Linked DNA regions of Homo sapiens: all the other regions are linked to region 3. Evidence: fine-mapped expression QTL. A gene starts in region 3. Each other region holds a variant in brackets. All regions are shown on one strand. Distances are between the middles of the regions.

Region 1 (5,256 bases), 65 kb after region 3:
GATGCCATACATCACAAGGCCATCACAGCCAGGTAGATAAATGGCTGAGGAAAGCAGCGGAGCTGGCCGTGCCAGCATTTACAAATGGAACACTTCTTGGGCAGCCAGGTGTCATGGGGCACAGACCCACAGTTCTCTTTGCACACATCATGCTCACAGTTCCGTCCATAGAAGGAGAGGGGGCAGGCACAGAAGGACCCCAGCATGCAGGTTCCCCCATTCAGACAGCAGGTTCTGTTTAGTTCCTTACTGTCCTGTATCTCCCTGGGCGGCACAAGTTGGGAAGACCGAGGATGAATTGCAGGCTCCTCCTGGGGCTGAATGCTGTCATCTCTGAAGGCCAGGTCTCCCTGAGATGGACGCGCAAGTTCCTGATGGCCCAACCCTTAACGACCTTTTTTGACTTTTTGATGATAGCCATTCTGCCTGCTGTGAGATGGTATTTTGTTGTGGTTTTGATTTGCATTTCTCTAATCATTAATGATCTTGAGCATGTTTTCATATGCTTGTTGGCCACATGTATGTCTTTTTTTTTTTTTTTTTTGATTCAGTCTTGCTCTGTCGCCAAGCTGGAGTGTTCAAGCAATTCTCCTGCCTCAGCCTCCTGAGTAGCTGGGACTACAGGCACGCACCACCACGCCTGGCTAATTTTTTGTATTTTTAGTAGAGGTAGGGTTTCACTATGTTGGCTAGGTTGGTCTCGAACTCCTGACCTCAAGTGATCCGCCCGCCTCCGCTACCCAAAGTGCTGGGATTACAGGCATGAGCCACGACCACGCCCAGCCTGTCTTTTGAAAAGTGTCTGTTCATGTTTTTTGTCTACTTTTCAATGGGGTTGTTTGATTTTTTTTTTTTTAACAGTAAAGTGGAAGCAAGTTTATTAAGAAAGTAAAGGAATAAAAGAATGGCTACACCACAGAACAGCTAGGTGGTTTGTTTTTTACTTGTAAATTTAAGTTCCTTATAGATTCTGGATATTAGACCTTTGTTGGGTGCGCAGTTTGCATATATTTTCTTCCATCTGCAGGATGTTTGTTTACTCTGTTGATAGTTTCTTTTGCTGTGCAATAGCTCCTTAGTTTAATTAGATCTCATTTGTCAATTTTTGTTTTTGTTGCAGTTGCTTTTGGCGTCTTCACCATGAAATCTTAGACAAGTCCTATGTCTAAAATGGTATTTCCTAGGTTGTCTTTCGAGTTTTTATAGTTAGGGGTTTTACATTTAAGTCTTGAATCCATCTTGAGTTGATTTTTGTATGTGGTGTTAGGTGGGGGTCCAGTTTCTATCATCTGCATATGGTCACCCAGTTATCCTGGCACTTTTTATTGACTGGGGAGTCCTTTTTCCCATTGCTTGTTTTTGTCAGCTTTGTTGAGTATCAAATAGTTGTAGGTGTGTGACCTTACTTCTGTGCTGTCTATTCTGTTTGATTGGTCTATGTGTCTGTTTTTGTACCAGTACCATGCTGTTTTGGTTATTGTACCCCTGTAGCATAGTTTGAAGTCCAGTAACATGATGCCTCCAGCTTTGTTCTTTTTGCTTAGGATTGCCTTGTCTGTTTGGGCTCTTTTTTTGGTTCCATGTGAATTTTAAAACATTTTTTCCTAATTCCGTGAAGAATGTCATTGGTAGTTTGATAGGAATAGCATTGAATCTGTAGATTGCTTTGGGCAGTATGGCCATTTAACAGTATTGATTCTTCCTATCCATGAGCATGGAATGCATTTCCACTTGTTTGTGTCATCTCTGATTTCTTTGAGCAGCGTTTTGTAATTCTTGTTGTAGAGATCTTTCACCTCCCTGGTTAGCTGTATTCCTAGGTATTTTATTCTTTTTGTGGCAATTGTAACTCACACTTTTAAAATAAAATGTGTGCTTTTTGTACAAAAAAATCTCATATCGCTGTCATGGAGCTTCCTTGGTTCATCTTTTACTGCGTGTGTTCCATTGTGTGTGCACTCAGTCCTGTGTGTGCTTGTCCACGCCCCCACCCTGTATATATATGTACGTATATATAGAT[G/T]AGTCTTTTTTTAACTCTTGAGATAAACCTGCAAACATGTTCCTATCACCTCTAAATACTCTCATGTGTATTTCCCATGCACAAGGATACTTGTACATAACCAACATACAACACTCCAAATTAGGAGATGAGCATTGATTAAACACTATATCCAGTCCACAGACTCCATTGAAGTTTTGCCAGCTTTCTCAGCTGTGTCCGTTTCCTTTCTGGCCTGAGATCCTTTCCAGGAGTATGTGTTCATTTGAGCTGTCATGTCTTGAGTCTGAAACTGTTTATCAGTTCTTCTTTCATTTCCTTTGCAGTTTTAAAGCATATAGCCACAGCCTTCAGTTCTGCATATTCTGCAGAGTGACTCTTCAACTTGAGTCTGTCTAATGGTTCCTCATGACTGGGTCCAGTCATGCATTCTTCGTCTTTATTTTTGGTACCAGTTTTATTGACATATAATTCATATACCACACAATTCACTCATTTAAAGTGTGTAATTTGATGGTTTTAGATGTATTCACCGTAAGTTTTGCAACCATCACCACAGTCAATTTTAGAACATTTTCATTGCCTCAAAAAGAAACCCTATACTCTTTCATTTGTGTTCTATTGTAACTGGCTTCTTTCACTTAACATTGTTTTCAAGGCTCATCCGTGCTATAGCATGTCAGTACTTCCTTCTCATTGTTGAATCATACTCCGTTGTATGGCTGTGCCTCATTTTATTTTATTTTATTCTTTATTTGAGATGGAGTCTCGCTCTGCCGCCCAGGCTGGAGTACAGTGGTGTGATCTCAGCTCACTGCAACCTCCTCCTCCCGGGTTTGAGTGATTCTTCTACCTCAGTCTCCCCAGTCGCTGGTACTACAGGCATGCGCCATCAAGCCTGGCTAATTTTTGTATTTTTAGTAGAGACAGGTTTCACCATGTTGACCAGGCTGGTCTCGAACCCCTGACCTCAGGTGATCTGCCAGCCTTGGCCTCCCCAAAGTGCTGGGATTACCGTATGAGCCACCACGCCTGGCCTCATTTTGTTTATTCATCCATCATTTGATGGACATTTGGGTTGTTTGCACCTTGAAGTTGCGTAATACTGCTAAAAAAGAACATTTGTGTACAAGTTTTTTGTTGTTGTGTTTTTGTTTTTGTTTTGAGATGGAGTTTCACTCTTGTTGCCCAGGCTGGACTGCAGTGGCACGATCTCGGCTCACCGCAACTTCCGCCTCCCGGGTTCCAGCAATTCTCCTGCCTCAGCCTCCCGAGTAGCTGGGTTTACAGGCATGAGCCACCACATCTGTACTGGACATATTTTTTCACTATTCTTCGGTATAGACCTAGGAATAGAATTGCTGGATATGGTAACTTCATATTTATCCTTTTGAGAACCTAAAGGTTATCTAAAGTCGCTGCACCATTTACATTTCTACCAACAGTGTATGAGGGTTCTGATTTCTCACCATACCCTTTAACACTTGGCTATTATTTGTCATTTTTACGATAACCATTCCGGTAGGTATGAAGTGGTATCTCACAGTGGTTTTGGTTTGCATTTTCTAATGACTAATGATGTTGAGCATCTTTTCATGGTGTATTAACCATTCATTTGTCTGAGAAATGTCTATTCAAGTCTTTTGCCTATTTTTTTATTGAGATGTCTTTTTTGTTTAATTCGAGGTAAAATTCACATGACATAAAACTAACCCTTTTAATGTGAACAATTCATGACATTTAGTATATTCCTTTTTTTTTTTTTTAAACGAGACAGAGTCTCACTCTGTCGCCCAGGCTGGAGTGGAGTGGCACAATCTCAGCTCATTGCAATCTCTGCCTCCCAGGTTCAAATGATTCTCCAGCCTCAGCTTCTGAGTAGCTGGGACTACAGGTGCGCACCACGCCCAGCTAATTTTCATAGATTTAGTAGAGACGGGGTTTCACCATGTTGGCCAAGCAGGTCTTGAACTCCTGGACTCAAGGGATCTGCCCGCCTTGGCCTCCCAAAGTGCTGGGATTACAGGCATGAGCCACCATGCCTGGCCAAAGTTTTTTTTAAAGTATTTTTTCTTTTCCTTTTACTTTTAGTTGATACATAATTGTTCATATTTATGGGATACTGAGTGATATATTTTGATACATGTATACAACATGTAAGAATCAAATCAGGGTAATTAGCATATCCATCACCTCAAACATTTATCGTTTCTTTGCATTGTGAACATTCAACACCCTTTCTTCTAGCATTTTGAAAATATACACTGAATTGTAGTTAACCATATTCACTCAACAGTGCTACAGAACACCAGAATTTATTCCTTTCATCATTATATTGATAGCCATCCTAGTGAGTATGAAGTGATGTATCATTGGGGCTTTGATTTATGTTTCCTTAATGACTAATGATGTTCAGCATCTTTTCCTGTGCTTTTTGGCCATTTGTATATCTTCTTTGGACAAACATCTCATCAAGTCTTTTGCATATTTTTTAATTGGGTTGTCTTTTTGTTTGTGAGTTGCAAGTTTTTTTTATTATGGATACTAGACACTTTAATTAGATGTGATTTGCAAACATTTTTCCCACTATGTAAGTTGTCTTTTCATTTTCTTCATAGTGTCCTTTGAAACACAACAGTTAATTTTGATGATTTCTAATTTATCTATTTTTTTCTTGTCGGTTGTGCTTTTGATGTTATATCTAAGAAATTGCCAGATCTGAGGTCACAAAGATGTATGTGTGTTTTCTTCTAGTTTTATAGTTTTATCTCTTACATTTAGGTATTTGGTCAGTGTTTACATATGGTATGAGGTAGCAGTCCAACTTCTTTGTATTACATGTGGATATCCACTTGTCCCAGCTACTTTTGTTAAAAAGACTATTCCTTCCCTGTTGATTTGTTTCAGAAATAAGTTTGACAGTAAATGTGAGGTTTTATTTCTGGATTTTCGGTTGATTTATATGTCTGTCTGTACTCTAGTACTAGTCTTTCTGAATGTTACTTGGTAGGAATTTTTGAGATTAAGAAGTGTGAGTCCTCTAATTTTGTTCTTTTTCAAGATTTTTGTTGTTGTTGTTATTCTGGGTCTCTTGAGTTTCCATACAAATTTTAGATCGGGTTCTAATATGTGCAAAGTCAGGTGGTATTCTGTTAAAGATTGCATTGACTCCATAGATCAATTTGAGAGTACTGCCGTCTTTAAAATATTATATCTCCCAGTCCATGAAAGTGGGATATCCTTCCATTTATATAGAT
Region 2 (5,256 bases), 26 kb before region 3:
AAAATAAAATAAAATAATAAAAATAAAGAGAACACTGTGAAAAATTGTGTGCCAACCAATTAGATAACCTAGTTGAAATGGATAAATTACTTGACAGACACAAACTACAAAAACAGACTCAAGAAGAGTAGAAAATCACAGAAAAAAAGAGAAATAAAAAAGAATAGAAAATCTGAAAAGATGTATAACAAGAGAATTATTAATCAAAAACTTCCCACAAAGAATAGCCCAGGGTCAGATGACTTCACTGGTGAATTCTACCAAATATTTAAAGAATTAATGCCAATTCTTCAAAAATTCTTCAAAAAAAAAAAGAGGAGGAAACACTTCGAAATCATTCTATTTGCCTAGTATAACACTGATACCAAAGACATCACAAAAAACTACAAATATATTTTAAATGATACATGCAAAACTCAACAAAATACAAGCAATCCAAATTCAGCAACATATAAAAGAGGATTATATACTATGACCAAGTGGAATTTATCCCAGGTATACAAGGTTGGTTTAATATCTGAAAATCTATCAATGTAATACACCAAATTAATAGAATAAAAGACAAAAACACATACTGATAAGAGATAGCCCATGTTCATGGATTAGACGACTTTTTTTTTTGAGACATGGTCTCACTTTGTCACTCAAGGTGGAGTACAGTGGCACAATCATGGCTCACTGCAGCCTCAACCTCCAGGGCTCAAGGGATTCACCTTAGCCTCTGCCTGTCCCTCAGGTACCTGAGACTATAGGCATGTTCCACCAGCTAATTTTTTATTTTTTACTTTTTTGTAAAGATGGAGTTTCACTATGTTGCCTAGGCTGGTCCCAAACCCCTGGGCTTAAGTGATCCTCCCACTTTGGTCTCCCAAAGTGCTGGAATTACAGAAGTGAGCCACCATGTCTGGCTAGAAGACTTAGTATTGTTAAAATAGCCATATTCTCTGAATTGATCTACAAATTTAAAGCTTGCATTTATCAAAATGCAAGCTGCCATTTTTGCAGAAATTGGCAAGGTGATTCTCAAATTTGTATGGAAATTCAAGGGGCCCAGAGGAGTCAAAACCATCTTGAAAAAGAAGAATAAGGCTAGGATTTCTTATTTTCAAAACTTACTACAAAACTACAGTAATCAAGACTGTATAAGACTTTATGTATCAAGTGTATAAAGTTAGACATATATAGCTCAATGGCACTTATGGCCAACTGATTTTCTACAAAGATACAAGACAATTCAATGGGAACAGAATATTTCTTTTCAGTAAATGTTGCTGGGACAACTTGATACCACATGCAAAAGAATAAAGTTGGACTCTTGCCTCACATCACATACAAACATTAACTCAAAAGTATTAAATGCTCAAATGAAAAGCTAAAGCTAGAAAACAGAGAATTTTAAGACCTAGGAGTAAATCTGCATGACTTAGCATTAGGTAATCATAACTTAGATGTGACAACAAAACCACAGGCAAAAAAAAAAAAGAAAAAATAGATAATTTAGACTTCATTGAAATTAAAAACTTTTGTTTATTAAAAGACACTGTCAAGAAAGTGAAAAGACAATACACAGAATGAGAGAAAATATTTGCAAATAATATATATAATAAGGATCTAGTATCCAGAATACATAAATATTATTATAATTCAATAAAAAGACAAATGGTACCATTTTAAAATAGGCAAAGGACCGGAAAAGACATTTATCCAAAGAAAACATACAAGTGGCAAATAAGTTCATGAAAGTGATTATCAATACCGTTAATTACTAGGGAAATGCAAATCAAAACCACAATGAAATACCACTCCACACCCACTAGAAAGGCTACAATCAAAAAGACAGACAATAATAAATCTTGGCAAAGATATGGAAAAATTGGAAGCTTCATGAGCGGCTGGCAGGAATGTAAAATGGTGCAGCCACTGTGGAGAACAGTTTGGCTGTTCCTCAAAAAGTTAAACATGGAATTACCATGTGTATTAGTCCGTTTTCACACTGCTGATAAAGACATACCTGAGACTGGGAAGAAAAAGAGGTTTAATTGGACTTACAGTTCCACATGG[T/C]TGGGGAGGCCTCAGAATTATGGTGGGAGGCAAAAGGCACTTCTTGCGTGGCAAGGGGCAAGAGAAAAATGAGGAAGAAGCAAAAGCGGAAACCCCTGATAAACCCGTCAGATCTTGTGAGACTTATTCACCACCACGAGAATAGCATGGGAAAGACCGGCCCCCATGATTCAATTACCTCCCTCTGGTGCCCTCCCACAATACGTGGGAATTCTGGGAGATACAATTCAAATTGAGATTTTGGTGGGGACACCGCCAAACCATATCATTCCACCCTTGGCCCCTCCAAATCTTATGTCCTCACATTTCAAAACCAATCATACCTTCCCAACAGTCCCCCAAAGTCTTATTTCAGCATTAACCCGAAAGTCCACAGCCCAAAGTCTCATCTGAGACAAGGCAAGTCCCTTCCGCCTATGAGCCTGTAAAATCAGAAGCAAGCTAGTTACTTCCTAGATACAATGGGGGTACAGGTATTGGGTAAATACAGCCATTCCAAATGGGAGAAATGGGCCAAAACAAAGGGGTTACAGGGCCCATGCAAGTCTGAAATCCAGCAGGGCAGTCACATTTTAAAGCTCCAAAATGATCTCCTTTGACTCCAGGTCTCGCATCCAGGTCACGCTGATGCAAGAGGTGGGTTCCCATGGTCTTGGACAGCTCCCTCCCTGTGGCTTTGCAGGGTACAGCCTCCCTCCTGGCTGCCTTCATGGGCTGGCATTGAGTACCTGCATCTTTTCCAGGCACATGGTGCAAGCTGTTGGTGGATCTACCATTCTGGGGTCTGGAGGACGGTGGCTGTCTTCTCACAGTTCCACTAGGCAGTGCCCCAGTATGGACTCTCTGTCGGGGCTCCGATCCCACATTTTCCTTCTGCACTGCTCCAGCAGAGGTTCTCCATAAGGGCCCCACTCCTGCAGCAAACTTTTGCCTGGGCATCCAGGCATTTCCAAACATCTTCTGAAATCTAGGCAGAGGTTCCCAAACCTCAGTTCTTGACTTCTGTGCACCTGTAGGCTCAACACCACGTGGAAGCTGCCAAGGCTTAGAGCTTCCACCCTCTGAAGCCACAGCCCGAGCTCTACGTTGGCCCCTTTCAGTCACAGCTGGAGCGACTGGGACACAGGGCACCAAGTCCCTAGGCTGCACAAAGCACGGGGATGCTGGGCCTGGCCCACGAAACCTCTTTTTCCTCCTGGCCTCCAGCCTGTGATGGGAGGGGCTGCCATGAAGGTCTCTGACATGGCCCGGAGACATTTTCCCCATGGTCTTGGAGATTAACATTAGACTCCTTGCTACATATGCAAATTTCTGCAGCTGGCTTGAATTTATCCTCAAAAAATGGGTTTTTCTTTTCTACTTCATCATCAGGCTGCAAATTTTCTGAACTTTTATGTTCTGTTTCCCTTTTAAAATGGAATGCTTTTAACAGTACCCAAGGTATCTTTTGAATGCTTTGCTGCTTAGAAATTTCTTCTGCCTGATACCCTAAATTATCTCTTTCAAGTTCAAAGTTCCACAATTCTCTCAGGCAGGGGCAAAATGCTGCCAGTCTCTTTGCTAAAACATAACAAGAGTCACCTTTGCTCCAGTTCCCAACAAGTTCCTCATCTCCATGAGACAACCTCAGCCCGGACTTTATTGTTCATATCACTATCAGCATTTTTGTCAAAGCCATTCAACAAGTCTCTAGGAGGTTCCAAACTTTCCCACATTTTCCTATCCTCTTTTGAACTCTCCAAACTGTTCCAATCTCTCCCTGTTACCCAGTTCCAAGGTCACTTCCACGTTTTCAGGTATCTTTTCAGCAACGCCCCACTCTACTCGTACCAATTTACTATATTAGTCCATTTTCACGCTGCTAATAAAGACATACCCAAGACTGAGAAGAAAAACAGGTTTAATTGGACTTAATAGTTCCACATGGCTGGGGAGGCCGCAGAATCATGGCAGGAGGTGAAAGGCACTTTTTACATGGCAGCCACAAGAGAAAAATGAGGAAGAAACAAAAGCGGAAACCCCTGATAAACCCATCAGATCGTGTGAGACTTATTCACTATAATGAGAATATCGTGGGAAAGACTGGTCCCCATGATTCAATTACCTCCCCCTAGGTTCCTCCCACAATGCATGGGAATTCTGGGAGATAAAATTCAAGTTGAGATTTTGGTGGGGACACAGCCAAACCATATCACCATGTAATTCCATTCCCCAGCATATACCCTAGATAACTGAAACCGGGGACTCATTTCTTGCACTCTAATGTGCACAGCAGCTTTATTCACAATAACTCAAAGGTAGAAACAGGCCAAATGTTCATCAACAAATGAGTGGATAAACAGTTGTCATATATACATGCAATGGAATATTATTTAGCCATCAAAAGGAATGAAGTACTGGTTCATGCTACAACATTGGATGAACCTTGAAAATATATTAAGTGAAGGAAGCCAGACACAAAAGACCACATAGTGTATGATTTCATTTACATAACATATCCAAAATAGATAATTCTGTAGAGATAGAAAGCAGATTAATAGGCTGGGAGTGGTGGCTCATGCCTGTAATCCTAGCACTTTGGGAGGCTGAGGCGGGTGGATCATCTGAGGTCAGGAGTTCGAGACCAAATTGGCCAACATGGTGAAACCCCATCTTTACTAATAATACAAAAATTAGCTGGGCGTGGTGGCAGGCACCTGTAATCCCAGCTACTTGGGAGGCTGAGGCAGGAGGCAGGAGAATTGCTTGAACCCAGGAGGCAGAGGTTGCGGCGAGCTGAGATCACGCCATTGCACTCCAGCCTGGGTGACAAGAGTGAAACTCCGTCTCCAAAAAAAAAAAAAAAGAGAAAGAAAGCAGATTAGTAGTTCCCAGGGGCTGGAGGCAGGGAGAGATGAATACAGACTGCTTAATGGCTATTAGTTTCCTTTTGGTGTGATGAAATGCTTTGGAACTAGATGGAGGAGGTGGTTGCACAACACTGAGAATGTATGACATTCTGCTGAATTGTTTTCAGTTGTCAACTTTATGGTATATGAATTTCACCCCAAGGTTTAAAAAACTTCTGTGAAGATGAAATGTCTTTTACCTTGTTTCCTACAGCCTTTCTTTGCTTTTTTGTTCCAAAAAGGTCTTTGAGATCTCTGTAACGCAATGCTTCCTTCAGGCACAGCATCCTGATGCACGCTGCTCCCT
Region 3 (5,144 bases):
AGTGAGACTCCATCTCTATTTAAAAAAAAAAAAAAAAAAAAAAAAAAAAGATCTTCCTGATATGTTGACATTCAAGCAGAGAACCAAAAGAAGGGGGCGCCGTGGGCGGTGGCTCACGCCTGTAATCCCAGCACTTTGGGAGGCCAAGGTGGGTGGATCACGAGGTCAGGTGTTCAAGACCAGCTTGGCCAATATGGCGAAACTCCATCTCTACTAAAAATATAAAAAATTAGCCGGGTGTGGTGGCGCACGACTATAGTCCCAGCTACTCAGGAGGCTGAGGCAGGAGAATTTCTTGAACCCAGGAGGCAGAGGTTGCAGTGAGCCGAGATCGTGCCACTGCACTCCAGCCTGGGCAACAGAGCGAGACTCCATCTCAAAAACAAAAACAAAAAAAAAAGAAGGCAAGCTTTACAGATATGCAGAAGAGCAGCATTCCAGGACCAAGGGACAGAGCCCTGCCATGATAGTATGACAGCTTTCCAAAACCACAGCTATCACCACTACATAACAGTTATAAACACAAATGGGCTAAAAATAAAGGGGGTAGAGTACTGATTATCTGGAAATCAAAAATATCTCCTACGGGCCAGGCATGGTGGCTCACACCTGTAATTCCAGCACTTTGGGAGGCCGAGGTGAGCAGATCACTTAAGGTCAGGAGTTCAAGATCAGCCTGGCCAACATAGTGAAACCCTGTCTCTACTAAAAACAAATAAAATTAGCTGGGCATGGTGGTGGGTGCCTGTAATCCCAGCTATTCAGGAGGCTGAGGCAGGAGAATCACTTGAACTTGTGAGGTGGAGGTTGCAGGAGCCGAGATTGCGCCACTGTACTCCAGCTCAGGCAACAGGGCAAGACTCTGTCTAAAAAAAAAATCCTCCTATATAACACCAAAAGATCTAATCAAGACTTACCTCCTCAACCAGCTGGACACCATAATCCCTTTTAAGTGGCTGGATGGTCACACCTCTCCCATTGACAAGCTGGGTTAAGTCAATAGGTTGACTAGGATCAACACGACCCAAATCAATAAGATACTGCAGTCTATTGAGACTCAAAGGCTTATACTGGCGTCTGAAACTGTAAAACAAGAATGTAAGAGTTGGAAAACTCTCATCTTCCTGTAACTTCTCGAAATCAACTCAAAGCTTTGTCTTGTGTTTTCCTCCACCAATTTTATTTAACTAAACAAAACCCTCTTGAGTGTAACACAAACATGTAATACTGCTTGATTTTGGGTAATGAAAACAAACCTGTACCACCTTTGTTCCACTAAAAATTATTTCCCTCTCTAAGCATTTACTTCACTTATTTACACAAATAAATCTGTGGAAAATTTAACTTACTATGGAGCTCAAAGTAATAATGGTAGTTATCATTTATTAGGTGACTACAGTGGGCCAGATTTTTATGTATACTGTCTATTATTGCTCACTCTTTTAATAACCATTAGAGCTGGCATTAGAATCTCCATTTTGCAGGTCTAAGTGCAGTGTCTGGGCCTCTTTTCCTTTTAATAATCCAGGCAAGATTTCATTACCAAAAAATGGTTCAGGGGAACAGTAGCAAAAGTTTGCTTCAAAGTGAATTTACAATTTCCACCAAAATTTCTACCAAACTATTTTTAGGTGCTTTTTAATGGAAATTGGGGACCTGTACTTTAAAAAGCAAAGCAACCTTACCTATGTCCTTCGTTAAACCCGTATTTTGGGATTCGGATGTAAAATGGAGTCTGGCCTCCCTCAAAGCCCAAGCGGGGCCGGGTTCCTCTTTGCCTTTCTCCTTTATGGCCTCTGCCACATTTTCTACCTCTTCTCCGACCTCTTGGTCTTCTCTCCTGCAAGGAAAAAAAAGAATTTTATGAATTTCAGATGCATTTCTAAAAACTGCATTTCAGCTCTTCACTTTTTGTTATGCTGTTCATTCATCCAGCCCACCAGTGCTAGCTAACACTATTGTGTCAAGCATGTCCTAGTTGCTCAAAGCTCCACACACTCTGTTAGCATCTTTGCCTCTAAAGACATAGCTAATTCTTGTAACCAAAGTCCAAGTGTGTTTCAAAAGCAAAAAGTAAAGGTTAGGATGGGGATAAGGTTTTTATAATAGGTTGAAACCGAAAAAAATCCTAGAATTAAATATTCACAACATTTTAAATGATAGGCAAGAATTTATTCTGAAATTAATTGTAAATATGCAAATGTTATTCATAAACCTGTAATTTTATTTGAAAACTGATCTGTTGAAGAAAATCTTTTCCTTAATTTCCTGTCATTTCACGAAAGCAATGAACTGACTGTTAAAATGACAGTACATTGTCAACTAACAGCTTTTCTAGCTCTATTTAGTCAACTGCAGAAGGGACAGCTGCAATTCAGATCTTTCCAATGAACATAAAGATACACCGGGAAAACATTTCATTTTAAATCCAATTTTGAATGACACAAAGACTTTGTAGTTTCAGCGAGTCGGCTTCTCCGCCTGGTATCTTTACACTTGTAAACATAACCTTATTAAGAACTGGGTGCGGCCGGGGGCGGTGGCTCACGCCTGTAATCCCAGCACTTTGGGAGGCCGAGGCAGGCGGATCGCGAGCTCAGGAGTTCAAAACCAGCCTGGCCAACACGGTGAAACCACGTCTCTACTAAAAATACAAAAATTAGCCGGGCGTGATGGCGGGCGCCTGTAATCCCAGCTAATCGGGAGGCTGAGGCAGGAGAATTGCTTCTGGGCGACAGAGCAAGCCTCCGTCTCGGAAAAAAAAAAAAAAAAAAAAAAAAGAACTGGGTGCACGTGGAAAGATTCCCCTCTGGGCAGTAAGGGAGAACAGGCATGAGGCAATCCTATTTTCATCCCAACACTCTCCTAGAAAGGGCAGTTCTCCTAATGACAGGGAGAGAAGGGCCGCTTTCATCGCCCGGGTCCCCAGCGCTTCCCCGCACCGCCACCACCCATTTACCGGTTTCTTGGAGCCGGGATTCGGCTTTAAGTTGGCCAGGCTCACACGCGGCAGGCCCCGGAGTAGGTCCAGGGCCCGGGCCCCACCGCCCTGCAAGGGACCGGCCATAACCCGCAGATCCAAGAACTTTCAAGGGCGCCCTGAGCTGCTCGGAGGCCACGTGGTCTCGGGGGCTGCTTTGTGGCCGTGGCCCCGCCCCTGTCGCGCTGCAGCCGCGCGCGCAAGCCCGGGAGTCGGGCAGAGGCGTGGGAGTCTGCAACCTTGTCTCGGTTGTCCTTTTAGTTGTTTGGGGATGTGATCTTATTTTCCGAGATCCTGCTTTGTCCTCGGGGTCCCTTTTAATATTCTGAACGTAAAACCTTCTCTTTCGCCAAACGAGAGCATGCACTAAAAACACTGCGTTAAATAAAGGATCTTTTTTGAGTCAGTGTTGGGCCTTGCCTGTTTGTCTAGGCCGTGTCTTCTCTGAGGTCAATGCAGAACCCAGAGTAAAGCAAAGTGAGCTGTCAATTATTAGCTTTTGAGCTTGCGTAATTATACACCGTGAGGTACGAAAATAAAACTGAGTGCACCTATCAAAATGCCTGGCTAATAACCAATCTTTGAATAAGACTCAAAGTGTGAACTCTCATCCGTGTGCATCTGTATTGTTTTGAGTGAATCGCAGTTAGTAACCACCTATTGTTAATGACTGGCGCCATACTGAATGCCTGGTGTATGCCAGACGCTGTATTAAATAAGCCTTACTCGATTTACAGCCATTCTAGAGGTAAATGGTGTTACTACATTTTACAGTTACAACAGGGAAGGCTTAGCAAGGTCCGATAGCTTGACCAACTTCTTGCAACAAGCGGCAGAGCCAGGATTCAAACGTACACTGCTTCCTACTATAAAAGTAGTATTTTTAGAATGTAAAATTGAGTATCTGCATCACAAAATACGAACATTATTACTCGAAAAATACCAGCTCTTCTTTTTTCTCTCAAGTGACTTAAATATAGAAAAGACTGTTCCTTTCTTTTTCTTTCTTTTAGTAGTGGTTTGACATTTCACTTGCTGGGGAGTTTTTTCTGCTAGCTCTAACTAGTAATCACAAATAATGAAGGTGAGACAATTTTTGGAGGGCGTCTGTCTCTAGGTATAACTGCGTCTTTTTAAAGTTCCTTTAAATCAAGTGTAAAATAACTACATAAAGAAAAAGTTGTATTCATTCCTTCAAGTACTATTTATAAGTAAGACACTGAACTTGTTGGAAATACACATGGATGAACTCAAATAGGATTTCATTCCCAAGTTGTTTGAAATCTAGTAGGGAACAGTTTCCAAAAGTGAATTATTATTATTATTATTTTGAGACAGAGTCTCGCTCTGTTGCTTAGGCTAGAGTGCAATGGTTCAATCTCAGCTCACTGCAACCTCTGCCTCTCTGGTTCAAGCAATTCTTCCGCCTCCGCCTCCTGAGTAGCTGGGATTACAGGCGTTCACCAGCACGCCCCGCTAATTTTTTTTTGTATGTTTAGTAGAGACGGGTTTTCGCCATGTTGGCCAGGCTGGTCTCCAACTCCTGGCCTCAGGTGATCCCCCTGCCTCGGCCTCCCAAAGTGCTGGGATTACAGGCGTGAGCCACGGCGCCTGGCCCGTGAATGTTTTTTAAAAGTTAAAGATAAAAGTAGGCCTCTTGTAGACTAATTAGCAAAAACAAAATATGTGAGTTCGATAAAATGATATGATGGTAAAGTCTAGACTCTATTTAGAAGCACAGAAGAAATAGAATGGGGTGTGGGGGGCAATAGAACCTATTTTCTGCCTTTAATGATTTTTGGTTTGTTTGTTTGAAATGGAATCTCACTCTGTCGCCCAGGCTGGAGTGCAGTAGCGCCATCTCGGCTCACTGCAGGCTCCTCACCCAGGTTCAAGCGATTCTCCTGCCTCAGCCTCCCCAGTAGCTGAGATTACAGGCATGCACCACAACGTACAGCTTTTTTAGTTTGTTTGTTTGGTTGGTTTTTTAGTAGAGACTGGGTTTCACCACGTTGGCCAGGCTTGTCTGAAACTCCTAACCTCAAATGATCCACCTGCCTTGGCCTCCCAAAGTGCTGGGATTACAGGTGTGAGCCACTGAGTCCAGCCTGCCTTTAGTGATTTTTAATTCAGTAGTTTTCATTGTGTTTTTATTAAACTTTCC

What was found.
Region 1: its variant is fine-mapped to the expression of MRPL15 in whole blood (INTERVAL, PIP above 0.99).
Region 2: its variant is fine-mapped to the expression of MRPL15 in monocytes after LPS (Fairfax 2014, PIP 0.95).

What each region holds. Positions count from the first base shown.
Region 1 is chr8:54,068,223-54,073,478 of GRCh38, reverse strand. All of the region lies in intron 2 of LYPLA1-TCEA1 (LYPLA1-TCEA1 readthrough), which reads left to right. All of the region lies in intron 2 of LYPLA1 (lysophospholipase 1), which reads left to right. It also overlaps the pseudogene CRIPTOP5. Among named protein-coding and RNA genes, the nearest start is that of LYPLA1, 31 kb to the left of the region's middle. RefSeq lists an enhancer at 2,163-2,262. The variant G/T (reference allele first, on the strand shown) is at 2,021.
Region 2 is chr8:54,158,959-54,164,214 of GRCh38, reverse strand. No RefSeq gene overlaps it. Among named protein-coding and RNA genes, the nearest start is that of MRPL15, 26 kb to the right of the region's middle. The variant T/C (reference allele first, on the strand shown) is at 2,062.
Region 3 is chr8:54,133,207-54,138,350 of GRCh38, reverse strand. It overlaps MRPL15 (mitochondrial ribosomal protein L15), which reads right to left and starts at 3,110. Exons shown (of 5, transcript NM_014175.4): 1 at 2,960-3,110; 2 at 1,686-1,840; 3 at 918-1,083. The coding sequence starts at 3,067.